Linked DNA regions of Homo sapiens. The protein of the gene in region 2 purifies or fractionates together with the protein of the main gene of each other region. This does not show direct contact. Each region holds a gene or a part of one and is shown on either strand. Other genes may lie near its edges.

Region 1 (3,500 bases), on a different chromosome or scaffold from region 2:
CTCTGTCTCAAAAAAAAAAAAAAAAAAAAAATATATATATATATACATATATGTATGTATGTATGTATGTATGTAGTGGGGTTAGTCTACCTCACTTCCCTTGGAATAGTCAGTCCTTCAGGCACAAGGATACTTCTGAGGCTGGCCTTCTACCATCTTTTGCCACTAGGGAAGGAAGTTTTTAATGCAGAAATTCTTAACCTCAAGTCTAAGGATCCCCAAGGCATCCATAAAGAGAATTCAGAGTCCATGAATTTGGACAGGGAAAAAAATACAAATTTCTTTTCACCAATCTCCTATTAAAATACAGCATTTCTTTTCATTATGAACACAGGAAATAAATTGTAGCAGTATTATAGGACCTGGGACTTTGTGAACAATAGAAATGAAAAAAAAAAACCTTTCTATTATGCTAGTTTGCAGATATCTCAAAATATCATTTATGCTCATCATTACTTTACAATCATCATAGATATTAGACACATTATATAATGTGTTAATAAAGAAGCATATATATTACTATATCACACATTTTGTTTTAAAAATCTTTTGGGCTGGGTGCAATGGCTCACGCCTGTAATCCCAGCACTTTGGGAGGCTGAAGCGGGCAGGTCACGGGGTCAGGAGTTCAAGACCAGCCTGACTAACATGTAACATGACCAATCAGTAAGTTATTAGGAAGGCAGAGCCCTTTGTATTAGTCCATTCTCATATTGCTATAAAGAACTACCTGAGACTAGATACTTTATAAAGAAAAGAAGTTTAATTGGCTCACAGTTCCACAGGCTGTACAGGAGGTATGGCTGGGGAGGCCTCGGGAAACTTACAATCATGGTTTCATGGTTTCAGATTTGTCACATACCAAGAATTGTTGCTTTCTGTGGCACAGTCTACCCTGAATATAGCAGGCCAAACACAACCCTGTCCCAAAAATAGAGTGTGACTAACCAGTTTCTGGTACTAGGTGAGTCTCTAGACTACCTAGGTTAGTTGCAGTGTGCTGCAGTGGGGCTTACTGGTGTCATGGTCAAAGGAGTTTCCCAAGCACTGTCTATCATCAAAGGAGAAATAAGTTGAACTAAAGAGTAAGGAAAAGGTGGCCTGTAGGTCTAAGATCAGGAAATTACAATCAGTAAGTTATTAGGAAGGCAGAGCCCTTTCTATTAGTTCATTCTCATATTGCTATAAAGAACTACCTGAGACTAGATACTTTATAAAGAAAAGAGGTTTAATTGGGTCACAGTTCCACAGGCTGTACAGGAGGTATGGCTGGGGAGGCCTCGGGAAACTTACAATCACGGCAAAAGGTGAAGGGGAAGCCCAAACATTCTACATGGCTGGAGTAGGAAGGGGAGAGAGCAAAGAAGGAAGTGCTATACACTTTCAAACAACCAGATCTCATGAGAACAGCAAGACGAAATCCACCCCCATGATCCAGTCACCTCCCACCAGGCTTCTCCTCCAAGACTGAAGATCACAATTCAACATGAGATTTGGGTGGGGACACAGAGCCAAACCATATCACCCTTCAAGTCTCTATTACTTATGAGGTTTAATAAGGTCCTCTATTATGTCAAGCCTCTATTACTTATGTAGTTTAATGAGGTCCTGGAAAGGACCTCATAAGTAACATAGAGGAGAGAACTATCCAATCTCAAAACATTATCAGTATGACCTATAGTCCTGGATACTGAGGACTGATCAAGTCACTTAAAAAAATATATATACAATGGATATATTTTGTAAAGCCGGAAGACCAAAGTGCTATGTTCCAGTGGAATGATCAAATCACTTTTATTTTATTTTTCTTCAAATAGAGACAAAGTCTCACTATGTTGTCCAGGCTGGTCTCAAACTCCTGGACTCAAGTCTCAGCCTCCCAAAGTCTTGGGATTACAGGCATGAGCCACTGCGCCTGGCCAAAATATTTTTTATTTTATTTTATTTTTTGAGACAGTCTCTCACTCTGTTGCCCAGGCTGGAGTGCAGTGGCACGATCTTGGCTCACTGCAACCTCCACCTCCTGGGTTCAAGCGATTCTCCTGCCTCAGCCTCCTGGGTAACTGGGATTACAGACATGCGCCACCATGCCCGGCTAATTTTTGTATTTTTAATAGAGACGGGGTTTCACCATGTTGGCCAGGCTGGTCTCGAACTGCTGACCTCAGGCAATCCACCTACCTCAGCCTCCCAAAGTGCTGGGATTACAGGTGTTAGCCACCATGCCCAGCCTATTTATTTTTTTGAGAGTTTCCCTCTTGTCGCCCAGGCTGGAGTGCAGTGGCACAATCTCAACTCACTGCAACCTCTACCTCCCAGGTTCAAGCTATTCTCCTGCCTCAGCTTCCAGAGTAGCTGGGATTGCAAGCGCCCAACATCACGCCCAGCTAATTTTTGTATTTTTAGTAGAGACGGGGTTTTGCCATGTTGGCCAGGCTTGTCTTGAACTCCTGACCTTAGGTGATCCACCCACCTCAGCCTCCCAAAATGCTGGGATTACAGGCGTCAGCCACCACACCCGGCCCACCTTTATTTTTAAAATTAAATTAGGTTTGGTGTTTTGGATTTTTTTTTTAAAGCTTGACTCCACAGAGATAATCACTATTGACATTTTATTTGAATTATTATTACCATTTTTTTTTTTTGAGATAGAGTCTTGCTCTGTTGCCCAGTCTGGAGTGCTGTGACATGATCTTGGCTCACTGCAACCTCCGCCTCCCGGGTTCTAGCGATTCTTGTGCCTCAGCCTCCTGAGCAATTGGGATTACAGGCACCTGCCACCACACCTGGCTAATTTTTGTATTTTTAGTAGAGATGGGGTTTCATCATGTTGGCCAGGCTGATCTCAAACTCCTGACCTCAAGTGATCCACCCGCCTTGGCCTCCCAAAGTGCTGGGATTACAGCCATGAGGTACCGTGCCCAGCCTTTATGTGAATTATTCTTTAAATACAATATAAATCCTACTAAGGGTAGAAAAGCTACAATGGAAGGTCTTGCATCTTTCACATATCATATCCTTGCCACTATCAAACTAGGTAAGGAGAAAAGTAAAATATAAAATAAAAACAGCTAAAAAAGTATTACTGGTAAATTCTGCCAAACATGTAATGAAGTTTAACACCAACACTACACAAACACTTCCAGAAAAGAGAAAAGGACAGTACACTTCCCATCTCATATTAAACAAAGATATAACAAGAAAACTACAGACTGAAATCCTTCATGAACACAGATGCAAAGATTTTAAACAAAAATTTAGTGAATTCAGTTCAACAATATATAAAAAGAATACGCTACGACCAAATGGAGTTTATCCCAGGAATGCAAGATTAGTTTAACATTTACAAAAATCAATGTAATCCACCCTATTAACAGACTGAAAATGAAAAGACACGATCAGCTCAGTAGATACAGAATGAAATAACGATGTTGAGTGGAAAAAAGGTATACCAAAACAAGAGTATATACAATATGATTTCATTTATATAAAATTCTACA
Region 2 (5,356 bases):
CTATCTGTAAAAAAAAAAAGGTGCCAGGCAGTTCTGAATTGAGAAGTGACTCTGCTATTTAGTACTCATGTGATCCCAGGTAATTTACTTAACCATATGAAGCTTCAGCTTCCTTATCTGTAAAATGGGAGTAACTACAGCACCTATCTCATTATTGTGCATTCAAAAAGATTCAATGAAAGAGTGTAAAGCACGTAGCACAGTATTTAGTACTTTAAGAAAGTGCTCAACAAATAGGTGGTGATGATCTCATCATCATTATCTCTCTCATGTCTTTTGGCTGTGTGAATCTACAATTTGGAAAACTATAAAATCCTACTTGCAAACAGAAGCAAGAATCCCACCTTAAATCTATACTCAAAGTAGGGCTTTTCTTTTTTTTTTTTCTTTTGAGATGGAGTCTCACTCTGTCGCCCAGGCTGGTATACAGTGGCACAATCTCGGCTCACTGCAACCTCTGCCTCCCAGGTTCATGCGATTCTCCTGCCTCAGCCTCCCAAGTAGCTGGGACTACAGGCACACGCCACCACGTCCAGCTAATTTTTGTATTTTTAGTAGAGACGGGATTTCAACATGTTGGCCAGGATGGTCTCAATCTCTTGACCTCATGATCTGCCCGCCTCGGCTGCCTCCAGCCTCCCAAAGTGCTAGGATTACAGGCGTGAGCCACTGTGCCCGGCCTAAAGTAGGGCTTTTCTTAAGCCATGAGAACAGTCACATGGCCCCAGATAGGCTCACCTCTACTTTCCCAAGTCAGCACCTCCCTTATCAGAATCTGTGGGGCAGCCAAGATAATAACAAGCTAATTTGATGAGCAGTGTTACTTCTGTGTGAGTGTGGGCACTCCATTCTTCTTGCTGGGCTTCCTGGTTTCCCAGGTGATGCACAACTTTTTGCACAAAATCTTTTGACAAAACTTTTGCCAAAATTCTTCTGCCCTTGTTGTCCAACTCAAAGGAGGAATTTTTATCATAGGAATTACAACCAGTAAAGGAATTCTTTTTTTAAAAAAGTGTCATTTCGAAAAAAGTCTTAAAAATAATGATAGCCCAGGGTTTTAGTTTTTAAATGGTTTTACTACCTGTATTCCAAATAACTAAGGAGGAAGGTAAAACTGGATTTCATTGGTCCCACAGTTACAATGTGGTTAAGAGCAGTCCAGAATCCAGGCTTCTAAATGTCAAGTCAGCATTCTTTACAACTATATTACAGTATCTTTGAATCACACTGGTGGGACCTCCTGTGACCATAGTTACGGATTCTATGCTCCCAGCACCAACCTAAGCCAGCATTTCCAATGCCTTAAAAAAAAAAAAAAAAAAAAAAAAGCAACATTAGGCCTCCATGGAAGAATAGGCCATTATGAATTCTGTGAACACAAATAGCAACTCTATCTGTCAGCGAGGGCAAACCTAAGTAATAAGATTTGACCATACAACTAACATTAAAAAAATCTTGCTTGTATATGGGATCTCTTCTTATATTTTCCTACAATTTCCTATAAATATGCAATTATTTCAAAATAAAAATAAAATTCTTGCTCTTATTAGGAAGATACCAACCTTCAGAAATTGACATAGCAAAAACTAATTTTTCAAAGACAAAACCAACCAAATTTACTATGAGAATCTCTCAACTTCGTCCTTCCTTCTTTCCTTCCTCTTTTCTTTCCTTCCCTTTTTTCTTTCCTTCCTTCCCTTCCTTCCTCCCTCTCCCAATCCCTCCCTCTCTTCCTCCCTCCCTTCCTTCCTCTCTCCCTCCTGCCTTATCTCATTTATCAGAAATAAAATCTATCATGTCAAACAGCAAGGATTATAGAAAAAGTAACTTGAATTTCTTCTTTTCCCATCCTGGTTAAAGTGACATAATATATACTATCAGAGATTGCTCATTATCTTGAGAAAATTGAAAATGTGATAACTTTATTTAGGAAGATTAGGTTTTTCCCCTGAGTTAACATTAGTCAAAGCTACAATTTTCCATGATAAGATACATCTTTATTCCTAAAAATAATCACATTTCTAATGCCAAACAGACAAATTAGACTTTTTCCCTAGAAAAGAATAAGGCATCAATACTACCTGATCAATGAAGCTGACATTCTCCAAACTCCAACAGTATAACATCTGGGATATTCTTTTGCAAGGAGTAATGGCAGCAGCTAATATTTCTCAGAATAGTCATCCTTTCAAGCTCATTAATCATTCTCCCTCTTGAAAATATTACAGCAGAGAAATGCTATTCTACATGTTAGGGAATATTTTCTCTATGTCAATGGTTAAGCTAATCAGAAAATAAGAATATGCAAATCATCAAAAAAGACTCACCAAATTAATTTCAAATAAAGAAAACAATGGTCAATCCTACTATTAATAAGAAAAACATAATCTTCTTTTAAAAAAAACATTTTTGTTTTTGCCTATCAGAATGTCAGTATCTAGCGTTTGCTGGGGTGAGGTAACAGGTTGTTAGGAGGCACATAAATTGTTACAATACGCTTATGGAGGGCAAATTTGCAATATGATATACAAACCTTAAAACTGTGTATAACGTTTTATCTAGCAAGTCTATATCAAGGATTTTTTTTTTTTTTTTAAGAGGGAGTATCGCTTTGTCACCCAGGCTAGAGTGCAGTGGTGCAATCTCAGCTAACTGCAACATCTGCCTCCTGGGTTCAAGCAATTCTCCTGCCTCAGCCTCCCAAGTAGCTGTGACTACAGGCATGTGCCACCACGTCTGGCTAATTTTTTGTATTTTTAGTAGAGACGGGGATTCACCGTGTTAGTCAGGATGGTCTCCATCTTCTGACTTCGTGATCCGTTCACCTTGGCCTCCCAAAGTGCTGGGATTACAGGTGTGAGCCACCATGCCCGGCCTATATCAAGGATTTTATCCCAAAAGAATAATTATAGATGTAAAAATAATTTCTTACAAATGTATTAGTTTTCTACTGCTAATGCAACAAATTACCACAAACTCAATGCCTTAAAACAACACCCATTTATTATCTCACAGTTCTGTAGATCTTAAGTCCAGGTGGGCTCAACTGGGTCCTCTGTTTAGGGTCTCACAAGGTAGAAATCAAGATGTTGGTCAGAAGCTGGGCTCTTATCTGGAGGCTCTGGGGAAGAATTTGCTTCCAGGCGCAATCAGATTGTTTGCAGAATTCAGTTCCTTGCTGTTGTAGGACTATGGTCCCTAGTTTTTTTGGTTGGCTGTTGGCAGGGACTACTCTCAGCTTCTAGAGGCTTCCCTCAGGTCCTTGTCTGTGGGAAATTGTCATTTCAGCAATGGAGAACATTCCTCCTGTAGAGTCTCTTTCACACTTTGAATCTCTCTGACTTCCTCTACTGCCACAAGCAGGAGAAAACTCTCTGTTCTTAAAGTGCTCACTTGATTAGGTTAGGTCTACCTAGAATATTGCCCTTTTGATTAATTCAGAGTCAATTGATTAGCAACCTTAATTATATCTCCAAAATTCCCTTGCAAGTAACATAACATAATCATGGAAGTAATATCCCATCATGTTCACAGGGAGAGGGAATTATACAAGGTAAGTGTCACTGGAGTTCATCTTAGAATTCCACCTGCTACACGGGACTATTCCCTGCATTGCTATATAATTACAGACAAAATTGAAAATATGCAACAAAAAGGATTCATTCAATAAATTACAAAATATCTACATGCTGAAATACTATTGTGCCACACAAAGAGAATATTTAATGATATGAAAAAATTCCATGATACATTAAGTGAAAAAAGCAAAATATAAAATTATATGTCAACAAATACAACATACACTAAAAATTACATCAGAGCAGAGGCTCATGGTTATTCCTACACAGCTCACTTCCAGCAAACCATAGGGTGTCAGTAGCAATTTGTTAAATAAATGAAGAAATATATATCTACATAGATATAAAGAAAAAAAATACATTGACCAAAATGTTGAATGTTCTCTCTAGGTAAATGAATTATAAATAAGTTCAGTTTTTTCCTCTTTATAGTTAAAAACATTTTTACAACTCTAATGTTCTACCTTTTTTTTCTTCCACAACAGTCATCTTAGAATAATGTTCTACTTTTGCACCAAGTTATTAAAAAAAAAATCAGTATCAGAAAACATAAAGCTGGCATTCTTCCCATTCAGAATCTCTAGGAGTAATGAGTCACTCTCCTTTCATCAGTAGTTTATACCCCTCTGCAGAGAATCAACTACTTTCCAAACTTAAGACAGCACTCACTCATTGTCTTCTACAGATAGATAGCAACTATATCCACTTAATCCTACTTGTACCATTACCCTAAGTAGCAGGAGTTGCTGGTATTCTTGAACTTGCCTGGTATGCAGCAGACAACATATTTCCATAACTCAACTAGAATTGGCCAATTTCCTGGTGTTATAAGAGAATCAAGTAAGTCCAAAGTTCAGTTTCCCAAAAACCATCTTATTTATCATGGGAAAACATGCAAGACAGTAGTATAAAGCAGACTGAAATGGGGGCTCAAATCAAAGGCTGTAAGATCCAAAAACAGGGAAAAATGAATTCTCACAGGGAGGATAAATAATGGGTTCATGACAGAAGTAGCATCTGAACTCAACTGTAAAGGATGGATAGGTACATCACAGGTAAGGAAAAATAGGAAAACATTTCTGCTGATAAGAATAGACAATAAAGCATGGAAGAGGGAAATATGCACTTTGAAGCATATTAAACATTTCTTTGCAACTAAAGTTTCATATCTATGTCTATATTGGTATTTATACCTATCTCTATTAGTTGGCTAAATTAGCACTTTTCCTTCAGGTATATAAGAGAGTGCTCATTTGCAAGATTGAGGCCAGATCTTGGTAAGCCTTTAATGCCAGGATAAAGAATTAGACTTCATTGAGTATGCCACAAATGCCATTCAGGGCTACTAGAGTTCCCCACAAGCCCAATGAATAAATAGCACCTGATTTTTCAAAAGCCAAATAAACAGCCAATAGCAGTGCAAAGTTAAATGAGTAGATAATCTCCATGTCATAAGTATATATGGAAGGCAGCTATTCCCTTTTTTCTTACCTCTCTAAAAATAAATGACAATTCAGAGAAAAGTAGTAATCTTCTATTCTAAACAAAATGAGCAGGCAGGGTCCCCCAAGTTTTAGGGCAAAGGAAGAAAGGAAGAAAAGAAGGGAGGGAGGGAGGAAGGAAGGAAGAAAAAAAGGAAGGAAGGAGGGGAGAAAGGAAAAAAGGAAGGAAGGGAGGGAGGGAGGGAAGGAGGAAAGAAAAAGAGGAAGAAGGAAGGAAGGAGAAGGGAGGGAGACAAGAAGGAAAGGAGGAAAGAAAAAGAGGAAGGAGGGAAAAAA

What was found. The genes of interacting proteins can lie anywhere in the genome.
Region 1: the proteins of TIGD4 (region 2) and KIFBP purify together in Homo sapiens (affinity purification with mass spectrometry; 3 studies listed by BioGRID and IntAct, with this or other methods). This does not show direct contact.

The regions. Positions count from the first base shown.
Region 1 is NC_000010.11:68,995,303-68,998,802, reverse strand, and holds part of KIFBP (KIF-binding protein), read right to left. Parts: intron 1-3,500. UniProt on the Homo sapiens protein: Activator of KIF1B plus-end-directed microtubule motor activity. Required for organization of axonal microtubules, and axonal outgrowth and maintenance during peripheral and central nervous system development.
Region 2 is NC_000004.12:152,772,339-152,777,694, forward strand, and holds part of TIGD4 (tigger transposable element-derived protein 4), read right to left. Parts: intron 1-5,356.